Linked DNA regions of Homo sapiens. The protein of the gene in region 5 purifies or fractionates together with the protein of the main gene of each other region. This does not show direct contact. Each region holds a gene or a part of one and is shown on either strand. Other genes may lie near its edges. The genes, in order: NDUFAF5, LYRM7, FAM83G, CDV3 and GRPEL2.

Region 1 (4,707 bases), on a different chromosome or scaffold from region 5:
ACCCTCTAAGGCCCTGCTCAAGTACTTTCCTCTTGAAGCTTTTCTAGGCCATGTCAAGCCACAGGGATCTTGTTCTCTCCTTTGAACACATACTTTTTACCTGCCTCTCACCTGTCTATTGATACGTGTCAATCGATAAAAACTTACCTAGCACTCTCTGAGTATAAGGCATGGAGAAAATACAAATATAAATAAGTAGGTTCCTACTTGCAAAAAGTTTATGGGCAACTAAGGGTAAGAAGAAATCTACATAGAGAATGTCTTATGATTTCAATATTATTTTGCACAGTTCCTAAGCTTTTCATAAATATTTAAAACTTATCTCTACAATTAGATTTCTTAAATTCTCAGGGAAAGGAGAGTTGCCCAATGTACTACTAATATGCCAAATGGCACCAGATGATTTCACCGATTTCTTTCCCAACTGTCAGACCTACAAGTAAATAGTATGTGAAAATAGAAACATCTGTAGATTTCTAACAATAAAGAAAATAACACAAGATAGTTGAATGAACATAAGTTTTCTTACCTGCTCAAGTGCTCTAGGAAGGTCATTCACCCAATGCAAACTAAAATATGAGAATACAGATTTGTTTTAGCTTAACTGGCACAATTAATTAGTAAAATTATCACCAGGTTAATGATAACCCATAAAAAGGTGTTAATTTTGAAGTTTAAAACTGCATATCCAAATCCACTGATCGTTTTCATACAGGTTTTAAAATTATAAATATTCCTAGAGGAAAACCTGCCTTGTGTCACACCAGAAAATTCCCCATGTCAATATATCACTTTGCGTAACTGAAAGAATCTGATATGATTATTTTCTAATTATTCATCACTGAATTATGTAAAAGTCATTCCTACTTAGGCATTTTATCTAAACGGTGCTATTCTGAGACCTTATTTGCAAAAAGTAGTAAAAATGCTCAAAGAAGCTCATCAGTTAAATCAATTAAGCTACAGAAATATAGTATTATTCTAAGTCAGACTTTCTTAGAAAAAAATTATCTGCAGATCTAAATTTTTTCAAGGCAAACAGTGTAACTCATCAAAAGTTTGAATCTGTGAGTTTTCCAATAATATCCCATTTTTTAAAAAATCAATTTTTAAGACTTTATTTTTAATTATTTTTGGAGCAGTTTTAGGTTTACAGCAAAATTAAGAGGAAAACCCAGAGATTTTTTTACATACTCCTATTCCCACACATGCACAGCCTCCCCCATTATCAATATCTCCAGAGTGTATATTTGTTACAACTGATGAAGCTATACTGATAAGTGATTATCCCCCAAGTCCATAGTTTACATTAAGGTTCACTTTTGGTGTTGTATATTCTAAGGGTTTGGATAAACGTGTAATGTCATATATCCAATATTATAATAGTATCATAGAGTAGCTTTACTGCCCTAAAAATCCTCTGTGCTCCACCTATTCATCCTTCCCCTACACAACCCCTGGCAATCACCAATCTTTTTCACTGTCTCCAGAGTTTGCTTTTTCCAGATTGTCACAGTTGGAATTACACACTATGTAGCCTTTTCAGATTAGCTTCTGTCATTCAGTAATACGCATTTAAGTTTCCTCCAAATATTTTAATGGCTTGACAGTTTCTTTTTAGTGCTGAATAATATTCTGTTGTTTGGATACAACAAAGTTTATCCATTCACCTACTGAAGGACATCTTGGCTGCTTCCAAATTTTGGCAATTATGAATAAGGCTACTATAAACATTTGTGTGCAGGTTTTTGCGTGGACGTAAGTTTTCATCTCCTTTGGGTAAACACCAAGGAGCATGCAATCGCTGGATCGTACGCTAAGAGTATGTTTAGTTTTGTAGGAAACAACCAACCTATCTTGCAAAGTGCCTGTACCATTTCGCATTCCCACCAATAATGAACTCCACATCCTTGTCGCATTTAGTGTTGTCAGTGTCCTGGATTTTGGCCATTCTAGTAGGTGTGTGGTACATCCATTTTTTAAGGTGATAAAAACAAACAAAAACCAGAGCTGTATACACTGAAACTTAATCTCTTAAATTTTTTCCTTTTTTGAGACAGAGTCTTGCTGTTGCCCAGGCTGGAGTGCAGTGGCGCGATCTTGGCTCACTGCAACCTCTGCCTCCCAGGTTCAAGTAATTCTCATGCCTCAGCCTCTCGAGCAGCTGGAATTACAGGCATGCGCCATGACATGCAGCTAATTTTTGTATTTTTAGTAAAGACAGGGTTTCACCACGTAGCCCAGGTTGGTCTTGAACTCCTGGCCTCAAGTGATCTGCCTGCCTCGGCCTCCCAAAGGGCTGGGATTATAGGCGTGAGCCACCGTGCCCGGGCCTTGAATTTTCTTTTGACCCTACTCTCACCTAGAGTGTAGTCATGCGTGACAGCGAAAGTCATATTCCCAGTCTCCTTAGAGTACGGTCACACTTTTCTGGTATAACTGCCTCCCCTTATGCTGAGTTCCAGGACAGAACTGAATGTCCATTTCAAACCATACTGTGTTAAGCTCATGTTTATCTTTCCTAATGCTTTTCGACAAGTATTAGATACTTTAAAAACTAAGGAGCTCATACTATAAACTCTATCATACTTATGGGAAAACAGAAAGCAACAGAATTAGTCACCTGCAAATAGCAAGCAGATGAGCTAACATAAAAACTCAGGTTCTGACTCCCTGCCCAGGGTTCTTTATAGACCAAGGCTCTGCATATTTTTCATTTCATGACAGAATGTGAGTAGTTTTCTAACTTTGTTCAGCACATCTAAAAAACCAGGGAAGGAATTACACACTCACGAAAGAAAACATCAAGGGTGACCAGCTTTCCCAGAACATAAGACTTTCAGGCCAAAAGTGGCAAAGTCCTGGGCACACCTTGATGACTGGTCACCCTAAAAACAGCTATCGAAAGAGTTGAACTGGACGTGGAGAGCCTGCTGAACTTCTGAAAGAAAATCTATTTGACTATAAGACAGGAGAAAGAAGATACCACAAAGATATTTTTTCTGTTAGACTGAGTTATTTGAGGACAGGATCCCTAATTCATTTTTGTATTCACCCAAAAATCTGGCTCAGTGCCTTGTATCCTATAACCTATTTGATATATACTTGCATTACATGTTTGTGTAACATATGTGGAGGAAGATAGTAGAAAACATAAAGGGAAAAGAGTAATCTTGAGAACTACATTCTGGTACAGAATTATTATTATTTTGAGACAGGGTCTTGCTTTGTCACCCACGCTAGAGTGCAGTGGCATGATCATGGCTCACTGCAGCCTCAACTTACCAGGCTCAAGTGATCCTCCTGCCTCAGCCTCCCAAGTAGCTGGGACTACAGGCATGCGCCACCTTGCCCAGCTAATTTTTTAATTTTTTGTAGAGATGGCATTTCATTATGTTGCCCAGGCTGGTCTCGAACTCCTGGGTTCAAGCAGTCCTGTTACTGCAGCCTCCCAAAGTGTTGGGATTGCTGGTGAGAGCCACTGTACCTGGCCAGAAGAATTAAGGCTAAAGGAAAACTAGCTGTCCTAGTTTGAGTTTGTCCAGAATGAGTTTGTCCAGAATTTGTCCAGAATGAGTTATGATTGTTGGGAGCAGGAGTTTGAAAGAATATATTCTATGCTCTCTGGTGGAGATAATATGATATAGTGCCTCAACTTTTTTTTCCCCCAACTTGCTAAACTCATCTGTGATAGAAGGGTTTTCTCCCCAATGTAACTTATTATTTTGGAATTGCTCTAACATTTGAATACAGGAGCCAATATGCTCTTTCAAACTCCTGCTCCCAACAAGAGCAATTCCAAAATATTAAGATGCACTGGGGAGAAAAACCTTCTATCACAGATGAACTTTAGGAAGTTCATGCATGCCACCACGCCCAGCTACCTTTTTTGTATTTTTAGTAAAGACAGGGTTTCAACATGTTGGCAAGGCTGGTTTCAAACTCCTGACCTCAAGAGATTCACTCGCCTCGGCCTCCCAAAGTGCTAGCATTACAGGCGTGAGCCACCGCTCCTGGCCTCATAGCAAAACTTTATGGCAAGAATGATCTGTTTATAACATATGGTTTTTAAAAAGTGGATTACCAACCTTAAACTGCTAACCACCAGGTCAAATGTATTTTCTTTGAAGGGAAGGAATTCTTCATCAGCTAAAACGCTGACAGTAGGTATTTCTGTTTCTGAGGAATTTTTCTAATGTTAAGAAAACGAAAGATCAAAATCACATTTATGTAGAATCTCAATTACTAACACAATCACTGTTTGTTAAATTGAAGTCAATGTTATATTTACTTGGCAGTTTCTACCCCCCTTCCCAAAGGTGGCACAGAGAAGGCACCCAAAAAGCATTTCTTAAATGACTTAACATCAGCCAGAAAAAATGGCTAACTAGTTGAAACAACATAAACAGGATACCAACCTCACACCAAAACAAATCTCAGAAAGCTAGTTTGGCTGGGCGTGGTGGCTCACGCCTATAATCCCTGCACTTTGGGATGCCAAGGTGGGCAGTCACTGAAAGTCAGGAGTTCGAGACCAGCCTGGCCAACATGGTGAAACCACGTCTCTACTAAAAATACAAAAATTAGCTGGACGTGGTGGCACGCACCTGTAATCTCAGCTACTCGGGAGGCTGAGGCAGGAGTATCGCTTGAACCCGGGAGGCGGAGGTTGCAGTGAGCTGAGATCGCACCACTGCACTCCAGCCT
Region 2 (4,707 bases), about 18 Mb from region 5:
ATGTTTTATATATATATACATATATATGTTATATATATATAAACATATATATGTATATATAATATATATGTATATATTATATATACATATATATGTTAATATATATATAACATATATGTTATATATATGTGTGTGTGTGTGTATATATATATATATTTTTTTTTTTTTTTTTTTTTTTTTTTTCAGATGGAGTCTTGCTTTGTCGCCCAGGCTGGAGTGCAGTGGCATGATCTCGGCTCACTGCAACCTCCGCCTCTGGGTTCAAGCAATTCTCCTCCCTCAAGGGATTACAGGTGTGTGCCACCATGCCCGGCTAATTTTTGTATTTTTAGTAGAGGTGGGGTTTCACCATGTTGGCCAGGCTGGTCTCTAACTCCTGACCTCAAGTAATTTGCCTGCCTCTGCCTCCCAAAGTGCTGGGATTACAGGAGTGAGCCACTGAGCCCAGCCTATGTTGCATATATTTCAATACGTAAGGTGGTTTAGAGTTTGGACTTTTGAATCAGACTGCTTAGACTAAATCCCAGGTCCACCTTTTACTCAGTATGATGTGGGACAGATATTTTCACATTTTGTCAATTTTCTCATTTGTAAAAATAGGAATTATAATAGCAACTATCTTACAGAAATGTTACAAGAATTAAATCAGGAATTCATGTAAAGTACATATAATACAATACATATATCTTATTTGTTCAGAAATTATTTTTGATGAGTTACAAAAACTTAAATCCCTGGAAACAGTGGGGACACTTTACCTAGGTGCACTCTTAAGGAGGTTCATAAATGTATGAGGAGTGGAACTGAACATGAATAACACAGAACCTAAGTTTCAGAGCCTGTGACTTCCAGATAAGATAGAAACTACTTAAAACAGGGAGATACTGAATTTAGAATCATTTGGGATGGATTCTCTTTCACAGCTGCTCTTTTAGACTGATATAAGACATTAACAACATGGTAATATCTGGTCCTAGAGACTGTGAAAATTTGATTATGTAACAGAAAGTTCAATGGCTTGAATATAAGGCAAGCAATGATAAACACTGAAATTCTGGTCCCTCGCCTTTTTTTTTGACCAACTCTTTATGAAGACTTGATCTTTAAAAATTTTTCTTTAAGTAGATATTTCTCAAATAAGTGTAATATAAGCTAATCTTTATAAAAGATATCAGAGAGAGGTAGTGAAGGTCATTCCCTAAAATGGGTCTTGACCACACAGGGTTTCTCAGAGAGATTAGTAGTTATCTAAAAAGTAGACTGGCTCCAAAGGGGTAAAGAACATACTTACCTTCTAATGCTCTGGCATCATTTTTAAAAACTTGTTGTCTGGTCCTGTGCAGTGTTTTAAAGAGCTGTAAAACCTGTTAAGAAAATCAGAATTCAAGGTTGGGCACAGTGGCTCATGCCTGTAATCCCAGCACTTTGGGAAGTTGAGGTAGCAGGATCGCTTTAGCCCAGGAGTTCGAGACCCTGGGCGATATGGTGAGACCCCCATCTCTACAAAAAAAAAATTTTTTTTTGACTTGCAGTCTCACTCTGTCACCCAGGCTGGAGTGCAGTGGTGTGATCTTGGCTCACCACAACCTCCGCCTCCTGGGTTCAAGCAATTCTCCTGCCTCAGCCTCCCGAGTAGCTGGGATTACAGGCACCTGCCACCAAGCCTGGCTAATTTTTGTATTTTTAGTAGAGACAAGGTTTCACCATGTTGTCCAGGCTGGTCTTGAGCTCCTGACCTCAGGTGATCCACCCGCCTTGGCCTCCCAAAGTGCTAGGATTACATGAGTGAGCCACTGCACCCGGCCAAAATATTTTTTTAAAATTAGTCAGGCCATGGTGGTGTGCACCTGTGGTCCTAGCTACTTGGGCGGCTGAAGTGGGAGGATTGCTTGAGTCTAGGAAGTTGAGGCTACAATGAGCTCTGACTGCACTACTACACTCCAGCCTGGGTGACAGAGCAAGACCCTGTCTCAAAAAAAAAAAAAGAAAAAAAAAAAAAAAAAGAAAAGAAAAAGAAAAAGAAAATCAGAATTCAGACCTCAAAAGGAAAACATTTCACATTTCACACAAATCGTATTATAAGGATTAAACAGTATTCCTTTTCTGTTTGTTTCATAGACTATTTTTAAAAATAGTTGGTGAAAACCAGGACTTGCCAAAATAACTTTCCTTTGATTATTTATCTCTACATTAAAAACATTTTTAGCCTTATTTACAAAAATAATACAAAGTTCTTTGAAATAAATAAAACAATATAAGGATGGTTAAAAAGTTAATAATCCTCATGCTAAAAACCAGTCTGCTACTTTACCAGTCTGGTATGTATCTGTTCTCATTTTTCTTAACCTATTGAAGTTTTAATCTGCTCAATATCATACACACACATATGCAAAATTATGAATTTATTGCATCTTAAAAGAGGCCACAGAAGGAAGATGTTTTAAACAATTTAGACAAATTTAATTGCTATTCCCTTTTTTTTTTTTTTTTTTTTTTTGAGACGGAGTCTCACCTTGTCACCCAGGCTGGAGTGCAATGACACAATCTCGGCTCACTGCAACCTCCACCTCCCGAGTTCAAGCGATTCTCCTGCCTCAGCCTCCCAAGTAGCTGAGATTACAGGCGTGTGCCACCACGCCCAGCTAATTTTTTGTTATCTTTAGTAGACACGGGGTTTCACCATGTTGGCTGGGCTGGTTTCAAACTCCTGACCTCGTGGTCCGCTGACTTGGCCTCCCAAAGTGCTGGGATTACAGGTGTGAGCCACTACGTCTGGCCCTTTTAATTGCTATTTCATAAAAGATAAGTGAAATGTTGAGACTTATGAATATTCTGAGTCTGTATTGAAAAAAATAAAAAGAGAGAAAAGAGCCTGGCATTTTGGTAAAAGACAGATTGTGAAGAGGCTTTAGTGATATGCTGAGGTCACTTCACACTTCTCAAGTCCAAAAAGGTACTCAATATTGTTCTCTCAATATTGCTCTTCCTCCACTCTTCTCTATTTTACTTATTGGAGGCCACCAAGTTTCTGAAGCCAGAAATCAGTAGGTCATCCTTTTATTATACCTTACTCTTGTCGTGGAAACTTTAGAAATGTCTCTGTAATCTTTCTTTTATCCTCTCTCAACAAAATCACTTATGTTCAGGCACTCCCCATCTCTTAGACTACTTACAAAGGTTTGTCACTTTGCCACCACACCCTCCTGTCCTCCAGTCTGTTCTGCAAATACTGTCTAACATTTACTAAGCATACTGTGTGCTAGACACCATTTTAAGTGTTTTACGTATATTAGAAAACCTATAACATCAAAGGCAGACATGAAAACAGAAATAAGAAACAGAGCAAAAAAATTTAAAAATAAAAACCAAGCTGCCATAAAAAACTTCCTCAGAAACATGTTATCGCAGAGATGGAATAACATCAATGAAAAGCTACAGTAAATTTAAAAAGGAACATTCCAAAAACTCCCAAAAGCTCTTGGCTATCAAACAGGTGAAAGTAAGGATTAAGTTGAGAAAAATTGCCCAGAATGTAGAATAAAAGTTCAGAAACAGAAATTGAGGAGAGGAAAGATAAGAAAATTAAGGGAGAAGGCCCAACAGCTAGATTAGCAGAAGGGCCAACAAGAGAGAAAAGAGAAAAGGGAGGGAAGAAATTTTAAAATTTTCACTTAATATTTGGGTAAAAGGGAAGAAAAAAAATTTCACCAAGTAAGGCACACGAATTACAAGATAGAAAGGGTTCCACCAAGTGCCCAACATAAAACTCATAACACAGCACAGCATGATGTTAAGTTCAGTGCAATGCTGATAATGAGAACAATCTCAGAGAATCAACATTTCACATGTAAAGGATGGAAAAAATCAGAATGGTACCTGATTTCTAAATAGCACCACTGTAAGAAGACAATGGAATAACATATTCAAGTTTTGAAAAAATGTCTGCTTTAGAACACCATAGATACTCAAACTATCACTCAAAGACAAGGGCAAATACATATTTTCAGAAATGCAAAGTCTCTTATCTGTCATACACACTTTATTGGAAAGCTACAGAAGAATATCCTCCACCAAAATAAGGAAATGAATCACAAAAGGAAAAGACATGGGAACCCAGGAGACAGGTAGTCTAACATGGGAGAGGCAAAGACCATGGGGAAGGACAAATGCTAGTCAACATTTGTGCAGCCAGACTAGAAAGCAACTAGGCAGGACTATAGCAAAAGACTGAATTGCTCCAGGAAAGTTATTGCAAGGAAAAATGAAACTGGTAGACTGGTTTTGCCTAGAATTTGGGAACAGATATCTAGGATATCTATTAAAGGATATTTTTAAAAAGTAATAATTTTTAAAAGGCAGTTATTAATTTAAAGATGAAGAAATGGGAAAAAAGACAATCATATAATGTACTTAAAGGGCTCAGCTGTGGGTAATTTTTATAGCAATAATAACATCAAAGATGTTAAAGTACTAGGTGCTAGTAGAACTGTGAGGGCAGCTGTTTGCTTTATAGGACACAAATGAGAAAATGTGGTGTATATATACATCATAGAATACTAAAAAAGAATGAAATCATGTCCTTTGCAGCAGCTGCTGGAGACCATTATCCTAAATGAAATAACTCAGAAACAGAAAATCAAATACTGCATATTTTGACTTATAAGTAGGTGCTAAGCAAAGGGTACGCCTTTGTGGATAGAACGCCAA
Region 3 (3,500 bases), on a different chromosome or scaffold from region 5:
GGACTTCACCTGCTGACCCCAGGTTCCTCCCTGAGTCTCTGGCTACAGCTGTGACCCAGCCACTCCGTACAGTCCCATGAGCCACCTGGAGCTTCCTTTGCTTCCCACAAAAGTCCCACAAGGTTATTAGTGTCACCTAAGGTGACATTGCCTTCCTTTGCTTCCCACAAGGTGATTGCTGTCACCTGTCTAAGGTGACATAGCCAGGAAGAAGCTGGTCTCCAGTTTGGGTGCCAGTCTGTCTACATGGCCCCATAGTGAGTGATGTCCTCCAGCCTCGGACAGGTGGGCCCTGCTTTCTGCTTTTCCAGCCCTCAGGATGGGGCACTCACTGCTGAAACTGCTCCCTACTCTCAGACCTCAGGGAGTCCTCAAGGGTCCCACAGTGGGGGCCTCAGAGGCAGTAGAGACTAAGCTCCTCATCTGACAGACAAGGATACTGAGGCACAGAGAAGGACAGGGATTTGTTCATGACTCCACAGCATTGTGGTGAGCCAAGCCCCTGCTTTCTGCCCTGGGCACTTCCTTCCCTGCCACATCTGTCCTGGGACCTGTGGCCCAGGCTTGTGTGGCATGTGTGGGCAGGGATAATAACAATAGCAAGTGTTGACTGAGTGCGAGGCGCTTTATAATCTCAGCTAGTGTTATCTGTCTCATTTTTCAGATGTAGAAACTGGTTAGTCGCTGCCCAAGGTCACCTAGCTAGTTCTCGGGTAGAGGGGTGGGGACCAGGCCTGTGTTTCCCTCAAACTCTAGGCTATCCCTTGTGCCCTGGCCCTGGCAGGACAGAGTGACAGGCAGGGGCTGGGAGGGGCAGCTCATCCAGGCCACTGCAGTCCTCCAGCTGTCCTGCCCCAGCTGCTTCCCAGGCTCACAGGGGCAGGGCCCGGACACTGACGGATGCTGACGGGGCGCTTTGTCTGCCTGCTTCCTGGGAGCGCTCCCTGCCTTATCTCTCCCCATGAATCACCTCTCGTGCCCATGCTTCCACCTCCCCTTCTCACTCTGGTATTGTGTAGGGAGAACTCTGCCTGCCCCCTGCCTAGGATGGGGATCCCTCTGCCTGGGCCGCCTTGCCGCACACTGGCCCCTTCCCACCGGGGGCTTTAGGCTGGGGCTGCTGGGGCTGAGTCAGGACAGCCCAGCCTTCCGCCTCCTCACTCACCTTACCTGTCGTCAGCACAACAGGCAGACCCTGGGGCAGGGAAGTGACGCAGCACTTAGGGGAGCGGCTGTGTTCCTGTCAGGACTGCTGTCAGTCCCCCCTGTTCCCAAATGACTAGAATGGAACTAGTGGACAGCAGGACCAGGAGCCAAGAGTCCGTGCTCTGCCTCTGCCTGACTGTGGGACCTGGAACAAGCCCCAGCTCCTCTCCAAGCCCCGGTCATCCCATCTGTAAAATGGGAACAGGTATTGAAGACTGTTAGGGGCCCCTTCAGCCCTGACACCTTGCTGCCCTGTGATCCTAGACTCCCCTGGGACAAGAGGCGGGTGGGTCCCAGGTCTCACTCTCAGCAGCTTGTGCCCTCCAGCCTCCCTCCAGCCCTAGTGGGCTCCTACTCCAAGATGGAAGGTCAACTGCCTGCCCCTCCCCTAGCCCCAGGAGCCATGATTTATCTGGGAAAAAACCTGCTGTGGGGTTCCAACTACATACCAGAGGACGGGCTTGTAAGATCACGCCTGGGAGGGGCGAGCCCCGGCCTCACTTGGCTGCAGCCTGAGAAGGCGTGAGGCTGGGCTGGGTTGGGGCTTCCTCAGCCAGAGCTGGATGTAGATGTTCTAGCTGGTTGCTCCTCCAGCAGATGCTGAGCCCCCCTCAACAGGACACAGCAGGGGGGCCTTAGCAGGATCCCTCACCAGCCCCAGGGTGAGGCCCCAGGGCAGGGACAGATCACACCTTCCTTATTTCACAGTTGAGGAAACTGAGGGCAGGTGAGGCGCCGGTGGCCAGGGCCAGAACACTGATCTCTGCATGCCAGGCCAGGGCTTGGGAACAGACCCAGAGAAATAAAGTCGAACCCAGGTTTCACGAAGCCTGATTCACCCCACATTTTTTCTGTCAGGCCCCCGCCTTCACACACTGAAGTCCTGGCCCACAGCTTGGCTCTGAGAGAATAGAAGCAGCTTAATGAGGTGCTTACTAAATGCCAGCCCCGCGCCAGGTGCTGAGCGGGCACTTTACCATGCTGTGTAATCCTCCCCACAACTCTGGAAAGTAGGTGTTGTCTCCATTGTGCAGATGAGGAAACTGAGGCTTGGTGGGGCTCGGAGATGGCAAATAACTGGCCTGAGGTCACAGAACTGATATCTGGAGGGACTGGGCCGAGACCCCCAGTCTGCAGGCCCTGAGCACCCTCCCATTCCCTGGAGAAGCAGTGGCACTGTTCCTTCTGAGCCCTACCCCTGCATGGGAGCACCAGAGCCTCACTGCTGGATCCTGTTGACTCAGGACAGTAAAAGCATTTTCTTTTTTTTTTTTTCTTCTTGAGACAAAGTCTTGCTCTGTCGCCCAGGCTGGAGTGCAGTGGCACGATCTCTGCTCACCGCAACCTCCGCCTCCAGGGTTCAAGCGATTCTCCTGCCTCAGCCTCCTGAGTAGCTGGAATTACAGGTGTGCGCCACCACGCCCAGCTAATTTTTGTATTTTTAATAGAAACGGGGTTTCACCGTATTGGTCAGGTGGGTCTCGAACTCCTGACCTTGTGATCCACCCGCCTCTGCCTCCCAAAGTGCTGGGATTACAGGCATGAGCCACCGTGCCTGGCAGTAAAAGCGTTTTCATGAGGCTCCTTGGCAGCTAAATACTGGGCTCTCTGGAGGAGGGCTGGGACGGGGACTCACAAGAACAGGGTGAGCTCTGTGGCCTGGGGACCAGGAGGAAGGCCACTCATTGCATCCTTTAGCTGGGCAGTGCCAGGACAGCTCCCCACACTGCCAGAGGCCACAGGTGGCCCAGTTGACACCTTGTGGGGCGCACAGCTGGCCCAGGCTCCCACCACAGGTCAGAGAGTGGGTGGGGAACCATCTGATAAAGTAATCCCAGGTGTTAACTCCTGTGCGCTCCAAAGGCTCCCTTCCCTTAATTAAGAGTTTCGAGGAGAGCCGGGAGCAGCCCTTCGAGGAAGGAGCTCTAAGGAGAGAGTGCCTGCCCGTCTGGGCACTCCAGTGGGACAGGCAGCTGCTCAGCCACTGGGCTGGCCTCCTTCCCACAACCCCAAGAGCCAGGGCCTGCCGTCATGTTCATATCACAGCTGGGGAAACTGAGGCTCAGAGTCGGCTGGGGCCTTCATAAGGTTACACCAAGGGTCTTAGGTGTGGCTGGACCTGGATTGGGTCTCCCTGGCTGGAGAGGGTCTCCCTGCAGCTGAGGGTCCTGGCCCCTGGGCCAGCAGAGAGTGCTGGTCCCACTTAGCCACTTGCATGCTGCAGGACCCTCGGCCTCAGTTTCTTCACTTGTAAAATGGGGATCAGGCCTTGTCTTGACGCAGTGATAGACAGG
Region 4 (4,707 bases), on a different chromosome or scaffold from region 5:
GTGCAGTGGCTCATGCCCTAATCCCAGCACTTTGGAAGGCCAAGGTGGGAGGATCACTTGAGGCCAGGAGTTCAAAACCAGCTTGAGCAATATAGCAACACAGTGAGACTCTGTCTCTATTTTTTTTTTTTGAGATGGAGTTTCACTCCTGTTGCCCAGACTGGAGTGCAATGGCCTGATCTTGGCTCACTGCAACCTCTGCCTCCCGGGTTCAAGCAATTCTTCTATCTCAGCCCACCAAGTAACTGGGATTACAGGCATGCGCCATCATGCCCAGCTAATTTTTTGTATTTAGTAGAGACGGGGTTTCACCATGTTGGCCAGGCTGGTCTCGAACTCCTGACCTCAAGTAATCCACCTGCCTCAGCCTCCCAGAGTACTGAGATTACAGGCGTGAGCCACTGTGCCCGGCCAAAAGAAATTTTTTTAAATAAATATTTTGGGTTTTTCCAAATGTACATTAATAATAGACTGGATAAAGAAAACGTTGCACATATACCCCAAGGAATACTATGCAGCCATAAAAATGGATGAGCTCATGTCCTTTGCAGGGACATGGATAAAGCTGGAAACCATCATTCTCAGCAAAATATCACAAGGACAGAAAACCAAACACTGCATGTTCTCACTCACAAGTGGGAGTTGAACAATGAGAACAAATGGACACAGGGAGGGGAACATCACACACCAGGGCCTGTTGGGGGGTGGGGGACTGGGGGAGGGATAGCGTTAGGAGAAATACCTAATGTAAATGACAAGTTGATGGGTGCAGCAAACCACCATGGCACATATATACCTATGTAACAAACCTGCACGTTGTGTACATGTACCCTAGAACTTAAAGTATAATAATAATAAAAATAAATAAGTATTTTGGGTTAAGATTCTGAAATACTAGCTAAACTAAACATGTGGAAATTGTCTAGTCAAGACTCTTTATCAGCCGGGCGCAGTGGCTCATGCCTGTAATCCCAGCATCTTGGGAGGCAGAGGCGGGCAGATCACTGGAGGTCAGGAGTTCGAGACCACCCTGACCAACATGGTCAAACACTGTCTCTACTAAAAATACAAAAATTAGCTAGGCGTGGTGGCACATGCCTCTAATCCCAGCTACTTGGGAGGCTGAGGCAGGAGAATCGCTTGAACTTGGGAGGTGGAGGTTGCAGTGAGCGGAGATTGCGCCATTGCACCCCAGCCTGGGTAACAAAAGCAAAAACTCTATCAAAAAAAAAAAAGAACGAACAAACCAAAAACACTCTTCATCCAACAATTGAAGGAATTGAAGCCCAGAGATGCTTAGAGGCTTGCCTAAATGCCAGTTAGCAGGGTAGAAATGATTTACATATTTTATTACTTTTTCATCTTTACATATTTCAGAAAGTATCAACTCTCCAAATGTCATAGCAGAACAAGAAACACGTTCCAAACGGTTATTTCCATGGGAGACAGGCTGAAATTCAGTGTTTGACCCAAATATAATATATAGCTTCCCATCAGCTAAATTTTATAAACAAACACTACAATACTGCTGTAAATTCATCACAATTCCACATATACGGTCTTAAATATGTGTAAGTCTGTAAGGCACTACTGGTAAGGTGAGGAGAATAATGATGCTACAAAAGGGAGACTTACTGAATATCTACTACAGCAGGCAGCATTCCACCCCACTGTACAAAGTTAAACCTCACAGTAACACTAAGGCAGCCAAGAGACCCACTGTATGTATGTATGAGGAAACATAAGTACCTTCCCCAGGGCTACAAAGTAGCAGAGCCAAAATAGTGTGGGATTCTAGAGGCTCTATTATTTCACATTACCTTTTAATTCATTTTATCCCCTTTATAGCTCTAAGGTATGATGCAAAAATATTCTCTAAGATTTGAGAAATGCATTTTCTTTAGTAAGGCTGATAGGATCACACATCCTGCAGCAGTATATTTATAAAGAATAGAACAGCCTTATCTCTTTACCTCAAGAGACATGAGAATTTATACATCCTAACTCCCCTTCCCCAACACTAGGGGGAAGCAGCTAAAACAAAAATCAGACTGGATTGAGCTGCTGGAATACCGGGCATCTCCACAGGTTTGTCCCTATTATACCTAGCATTGCTGCAACAGTAAAATGGGGAGATACACATGGCCTGATCAGCTATGCCTGGCCTGGAGGCTTAAAATGGCACTGCACCTCATCCAAAGAATCTTTCCTGACCCCTTCATGGATGATGAAATGTCTCTCCTCTGCCCCAGAGCACCATGCACATCTCTTTGAAATTATCTACTGTTGTCTATTACAGCATGACTTATTTCTACAACCAGAGAACCTCAGTGTCTAGCAGAGTAGTCACATAAGTATTTGCTAGAATAAATCCACCTTGGATAATGTAACCAGCTCTACCTAAAAGGTTTAAGTCTAGATTTCTCACCAAAGTTTCTAGAAAACCACTGGGCTCCAAGAACTCAATTATTTACTGAAACGTGACAAATGCTCAACAGTGTATACCTTCAAGAATTAAATCTTTCTAACATTCTCCCAAAAATCCACTTTAAAGATGGAAGTGGCTGGGCCTAGCAGCTCATGCGTGTGATTCCTTTGCTTTGAGATCACTTGCGGCCAGGAGTTTTGAGACCAGCCTAGGTAAAATAGACCTCATCTACAGAAAAAAAAAGTAAGATTAGTCAGGGGTGGCAACTCACACCTGTAGTCCCAGCTACTCGGGAGGCTGAGGTGGGAGGATCACTTGAGCCCAGGAGTTCAAGACTACAATGAGCTATGATCATGCCACTGCATTCCAACCTGGGTGACAAAGTGAGACTGTCTCAAAAAAATGAAAAAATAGAGATGAAAGAGGCCTACAGGGCCTACAAACAACCAAGGATCTAACTCAAATGACAGCCTCCTTTATAACCACCTCAATGGCTTCCCTCTCAAGAATCTGTCTATAACAGCATGACCTTGAATAAGATCTGTTAATTCAGACACAAAACTGGGCACATTAAGTACCTTGGTACTTAAATCTTGAGCTGGTTGGTAAATGTGAAATAGGATCTTAATATATAATACGTTTGCTGCTAATGAAAAATTTCCCCTTTCAAATGTACAGGTAAAGAACTAATATGCTAACTACTATAAGGACCAGGGTCAAGAACTTTAAGATTGTATGTGACATCTGGCTGGGCTCAGAGGCTCATGCCTGTGATCCCAGCACTTTGGAAGGCCGAGGTGGGTGGATCACCCGAGGTCGGGAGTTTGAGACCAGCCTGAACAACATGGAGAAACCCCGTCTCTACTAAAAACACAAAATTAGCCAGGCGTGGTGACACATGCCTGTAATCCCAGCTACTCGGAAGGCTGAGGCAGGAGAATCGCTTGAACCCGGGAGGCTGAGGTTGCGGTGAGCTGAGATCGCACCATTGCACTCCAGCCTGTGCAACAAGAGCGAAACTCTGTCTCAAAAAAAAAAAAAGAAAAAAAGACTGAATGTGACATCTGCAGCTCTCAGTATACCGAGAAATAGAAAAAGATAAAGCACATGTAGCAGAGACTGGTGGATCTGAGTGAAGAACATATGGGAAGGAGTGTTTCTCAGTGTTGCAGGTTAGTGGAATACCTCTACTAGGATGGCCACTTAGGGCCAATGACTAGATGCTAAGAAAACAAAAAAAACAATATAAAAGCTAGTCTAGGCCGGGTGCTGTGGCTCACACCTGTAATCCCAGCACTTTGGGAGGCTGAGGCGGGCGGATCACGAGGTCAGGAGTTCAAAACCAGCCTGACCAACATGATGAAACTCCGTCTCTACTAAAAATACAAGAATTAGCCAGGTGTGGTGGCGGGCGCCTGTAATCCCAGCTACTCGGGAGGCTGAGGCAGAAGAATCGCTTGAAACCAGAAGGCGGAGGTTGCAGTGAGCCGAGATTTTGCCACTGCACTCCAGCCTGGGCAACAAGAGGGAAACTTCGTCTCAAAAAAAAAAAAAAAAAAAAAAAGCTAGTCTACCTTCAGGTTGAACAGAACTTAAATGCTTGTACTAGCTGATACTTACTTATATCCCTGGCAAGGGTGAAGTATGTAAGTTATTTAAGACACTTTTCACTATCTCAAAAGTAACCAAAATAGATCAAGATCAAAATAACCCTGAAGATGAACATGTAATTTATAGTCAGTAACAGAAAAACACAGGTTCTGTTTAAATAATCTCCATAGTTTAACAAAATCAATTTCTAATCCTCAGTGAACTTGAAACCAAAATTTTATCTTCAGAAAAGTGCTATTTTGCCAAGTTCAACATGGCCAAACACTATTCTTCCAGTCACTCACGTTTTCAAGAACCTGCAGTCACTTAGGAAAGAAAAGACTTAAGAAGAGCCAAACTTTACAACAGAACCGGAGCCACACACACAGGCAGTTCCACAACACCAAATGGTAAGAACCTCACATTCCCTCCTCCCCATTATTTACAGGTCAAGCCCCAGGAGACAGAAAAGAGAAAGACACATTAAGGAAGCCAACAAGTGGTTGGGAATCAAACTCAAGTCTAATCACTTCTACTCAACACCACTACAAAGAAATCTCAAGAGTGGAGAAGCCATCGTTCCTGAAAGTTTCCCATTATCAATCTGGGGGTTTCACTTTGGTTAAGCTCACAAAATGATGTTTTCACAGTAGGACATTAATGCCTAGCTGTGGTAGGTGTTCAACAAA
Region 5 (4,500 bases):
CAGTTTGCTCTTGGCACGATGGTAAGGTTCCAGGGGTGAGCATCCCAAGACAGGAAGTGGGGATACCAGTTTCTTAAGATCTGGGTCCAGAAAATGGCAGTGTCACTTCCACTGTATTCTATTGGTCAAGCAATCACAAAGCTCCAAGGAAACTCAAGAATGGACATGGGCCCTACTCAACAAAGGTGTCAAGAAATTCTGGAGCCATGTTTTAAAACTACAGTGAACTTGAGAGCATGGACATCTGAGTGGATAGGAATAAGAATATACTCACTGACTAGCACTGGGAATATGGGACACATGGTTTATGGAGCTACAGTGTACAGACAGTATTGGAAAGATAATGAAAACGCAAGACCAAATCCCAGGGAAGGCTGGCCCAACAGAGGGCCATTCAGCCAGGAGTCTAGGTATATGGAAGCTAGCTGAGAAGCAGAGGTAAAGACAAGGCCAGGCAGTCACAAGGTGGGAAGGACATGGGGAAGCTGAAGGTCAGAACAAGGCCAAGTGTCTGTAATCTGGTTAGGAGAATAGTCAGCAGTAGTCAAAGGAAATAAGACACCTAGAACCAAAAGGCGAACCCAAGAAAACAAGTCAATGCCAGAAAAGAAGGCAGAAATAGGGCTGGGAACAGTGGCTCAGGCCTGTGAGCCCAGCACTTTGGGAAGCCGAGGCAGGTGGATCGCCTGAAGTCAGGAGTTCAAGACCAGCCTGGCCAACGTGGTGAAACTGTCTCTACTCAAAATACAAAAAATTAGGCGTGGTGGCAGGTGCCTGTAATCCCAGCTACTCGGGAGGCTGAGGCAGGAGAATTGCTTGAACCTGGGAGGCGGAGGTTGCGCTGAGCTGAGATCGCGCCATTGCACTCTAGCCTGGGCAACAAGAGCAAAACTCCATCTCAAAAAAAAAAAAAAAAAAAAAAGGCAGAAATAGGAATCCAGATCTAAGAAATATGTAGCAATCAGAAAGAGGCAAGTCAAGGAGGAATAAAACAGACAAGACTTCAACACGGAGGCAGGGTGGGGAAAGCCCACAGTGCATCCACTTGGCTATGCTGCTATGAGATCTCAAGGTACCTCTCCAGAGCATCAACAAGGCAGGTCAGCAGTCATGAAGTGACCATAATGTTCCATATACAATACGAATAGGCAGACAAAGACTCTAAACACCAGAGCTGCAGTTATTTCAATTCAGGTTTTATTAAAGTTGTTTCTGAATATTTTTTCTCAGTGATCCTTGTTCTGATGAATATTACATTTCATCCTTAGTTTTGCTCATTTGATTTTGCTTTAGTGTTTAAAGAACTTTTATTTATCAAATCCTTTGCCATGAATGAGAGCACCAAATAACATATCAATACCCAACTGCCTGATTCCTTTACAGCAGTAAGAAAAGTCAGTAAAACATTTGTACAGTCCAAGTACTACAACACCAAGATCCCCTCTTCAAGTGAGAGTGAGCCAAAGCTTCCTTAGTATCATCTCAAGTCAATGTCTTTTCACTATACCATTAAGATGAAAATAACTAAGAGCACTGACACAATTTTCTTGCTCTTTCCATCTAAAAATGTGGGTTTCCTGTGGTGTGGCTAATTTTAAAAACCAGAAAATGGAAGGAAAATAAGTCAGTGAATGATTAGCTTACAAGTTTTTTCTACTCATCATTAACCAGTCTTCCCTTTTCCCTAGACTTTAGACAGCCATAAAAAGGCAGGAAAAACAATGTGCATAATAAAAAAATAAAAATAAATATCTGAGCACCTACTGTAGTAGGCATTTAACACATTTCACTTAATCCTCACAACGCTGTGAAAGAATTATTATAATCATTTTACGAATAAAGAAACAGGCTCAGAAGGGTGAAATCACTGGTGCCTAAAGTCCTGCAGGTGACTGAGCTGAGATTTAAGTTCAAGCCTATGCTCTAATATGCTGCTTTGGCTCCCCAAAGCCCTTCAGCTTGAGATTCTTACTACTATAGCTTCATCTTCTAATTCTAAATTTACACTTTTAAGTCTGCAAAACTACTGAATAACAAAAGAACCTAAAATTATTCTGAATTTACTTGCCAAAACGGGAGGTGTAATAGACCATTAGAAAATTCTTCTAGCCTGGACAATATAGTGAGACCCCGCCTGTAAAAAACAACCAACCAACCAAAAAAAAAAAACCAAAAACCAAAAACCAAAAACCAAAAAACAAAACTAGCCAGTCATGGTGGTGCACTTGCCTGTGGTCCTGGCTACTTGGTAGGCTGAGGTGGGAGGATCACTTGAGCTCATTAGGTAGAGACATCTCTTTAGGTAATCATAACATTCCATACCTAAAATTATTGTTAATTGTAATTAATGTTAATTCTAACTGGTAATGATAGCTAGCAATAAAAAAACACACAGAGAGTAATTACAATCAGCTCATTTTCTTATTGTCACCATCTGTCAAATCTCACAGAATGGAAGGCAAAAAAAGACAACTTCCTATTGTGAACCTTGATTGTTCATTAAATTTACAATATATACTTAGTGGAATGCCAAAAGATGTTCTGGTTTTACAAGCTTAACCACCAGTCTTTTGATTGCATTTTAAAAGTGCATATTTACTTGTTTTTTAAGGGTCTAAATCTGATGAAGATGGTAAGGCCCACAAGGAGATGGCTTTATTGATAAGTTTGTGTGCTGTCTTAGAATTATCTATAATGTATAAGAGGTTAACTTTCCACCACTCCACTGAATGTCATAGAGTTCCAGTGGAAAATGAATTTTATTTTATTTTATAACTTCAACCTAAACCTATATAATCTAGACATCCAACAACATCTGATTGTCTGCTGGAGACTTCATTGCATGCCCATTAATCTTAAATGGAGACTTAATTGCATGCCCATTAATCTTAAATGATTGACATTAATATCTAGTTGTTCTTCATTCATACTCTCACTGGAATTTAGTCAATAGTTTAGAGATTATTTTCCTTGTGTCCAGTCCTAAAAAGACTAGATTTTCATACTTCAGAAGCAGAAAGGGTGAGATTTGATCATTAAGGCCTCTTCCAACATTAAAATATCCATAATTGACTGCCTTCCTAAAATCTGACTGATGTATCATTCATTAAGTCGTTTATTGGACAAATCTTTTACAGAACACCAGCTATAAGACTGAAAAAAAACCACATAGGCCCATTAATTCTAGAGGTTAATATATAAAAGGTGAGCTCAATGTTTACACAGATGTGACTTAACAGATACAAAGAATAGGAAATAGAGCTTGTCAATATAACAGAGGTAGTGATTTGTGAGTACCAACTTAAAAAAAAAAACAACAAAAAAACTTTGCGGGCGCAGTGGTGAACGCCTGTAGTCCTAGCTACTTGGCAGGCTGAGGCAGGATTGCTTGGGCCCAGGAGTTGGAGGTCAGCCTGGGCAACACAGGAAAAAAAAAAAAAATTGCCAAGAGGAGAGAATACTTATGTTAAGTGTTCTTATCGCAAAAAGTAACATAAATAGAGCCAGAGGAAACTTAAAAAAAAATTCAGCATTAACTATTAATAAATGAAATGAGAAATCATGGGAACCTAACACTTTTGTCCTGATCACCACCTCCCATCATTTAATAAAGGATTATAAGGTAAAATTGACAAAAGGGCAGAGGAGTAAAGGCTGGTGGAATAAGTTGTAGGTAAATTACCCAAATAGAGCCATCTGGGTCATTAGCTGTTAGTGTTGCCTCAGTTTGCCTGAAATGATTATATGACAAGGAGGCTGAAAATAATTTGAAGAGCAAAGACAGCACAAGGCTTTTTGGCCATTCTTGCTTGAAAGGGTCCTGGGTATCTCAAATTTCGATGCTCCTTGCCTTCCAAGTCTCATCTAGACCTTTAGCCCCTGCAAATGGGGATGAGAAAGGGGTGGGTATGGGACAATGATGTGAGCATAAAGCCTATCTAGTTGGGATTACAAGAACAAAAGATGGCTAAAAGGAAAAAAACAAAACAAAAGGTAAAGTCCTGAAAATCTATGTGTATAAAAATCAATCCAAATGATCTAAATTTATACGACCACGAAGCTTTATCCTCTAAGTACCCAAATGTTGAACCAATCCCTACCATCTCCTTTTTCCACAAAATACAAGATACTACACAATTCCTGTTATAGAGACCGCTAGGAAGAAACATGTAGTTGAAAACCCATAGTTAAAAGGATTTTGGATTCAAATTTATCACAGTACCAATTTTCCTAAACATGTTTTGATAAAGGCCATTGGAACACCTGTCACACTGTTCAAATGCCCAATGGTAAGACTTCTGATGAGACCAAACAGGTCACATTAAATCAATAGAATATCTTAGAAATAAAGCCAATATGACTAAATCCAAAACATATCACATGAAGTACCTCATGTACAATACAAACCTAGTTTAATAAATAAAAGAAACATAGGTGACTGCGCTCTGGGAGAACATCCAGTTCCTGATGGCCTCTTCACAGTCTTCTCTGAGACTCCAC

What was found.
Region 1: the proteins of GRPEL2 (region 5) and NDUFAF5 purify together in Homo sapiens (affinity purification with mass spectrometry; 3 studies listed by BioGRID and IntAct, with this or other methods). This does not show direct contact.
Region 2: the proteins of GRPEL2 (region 5) and LYRM7 purify together in Homo sapiens (affinity purification with mass spectrometry, with the first as the bait; one large-scale study listed by BioGRID). This does not show direct contact.
Region 3: the proteins of GRPEL2 (region 5) and FAM83G purify together in Homo sapiens (co-immunoprecipitation; one large-scale study listed by IntAct). This does not show direct contact.
Region 4: the proteins of GRPEL2 (region 5) and CDV3 fractionate together in Homo sapiens (co-fractionation; one large-scale study listed by BioGRID). This does not show direct contact.

Annotation. Positions count from the first base shown.
Region 1 is NC_000020.11:13,794,323-13,799,029, reverse strand, and holds part of NDUFAF5 (arginine-hydroxylase NDUFAF5, mitochondrial), read right to left. Parts: intron 4,193-4,707; coding exon 4,089-4,192; intron 570-4,088; coding exon 530-569; intron 1-529. UniProt on the Homo sapiens protein: Arginine hydroxylase that mediates hydroxylation of 'Arg-111' of NDUFS7 and is involved in the assembly of mitochondrial NADH:ubiquinone oxidoreductase complex (complex I, MT-ND1) at early stages. May also have methyltransferase activity.
Region 2 is NC_000005.10:131,176,752-131,181,458, reverse strand, and holds part of LYRM7 (complex III assembly factor LYRM7), read right to left. Parts: intron 1,365-4,707; coding exon 1,292-1,364; intron 1-1,291.
Region 3 is NC_000017.11:18,998,265-19,001,764, reverse strand, and holds part of FAM83G (protein FAM83G), read left to right. Parts: intron 1-3,500. UniProt on the Homo sapiens protein: Substrate for type I BMP receptor kinase involved in regulation of some target genes of the BMP signaling pathway. Also regulates the expression of several non-BMP target genes, suggesting a role in other signaling pathways.
Region 4 is NC_000003.12:133,576,127-133,580,833, reverse strand, and holds part of CDV3 (protein CDV3 homolog), read right to left. Parts: intron 1-4,707.
Region 5 is NC_000005.10:149,351,259-149,355,758, reverse strand, and holds the end of GRPEL2 (grpE protein homolog 2, mitochondrial precursor), read right to left. Parts: coding exon 4,477-4,500; 3' UTR 1,176-4,476; downstream 1-1,175. UniProt on the Homo sapiens protein: Essential component of the PAM complex, a complex required for the translocation of transit peptide-containing proteins from the inner membrane into the mitochondrial matrix in an ATP-dependent manner.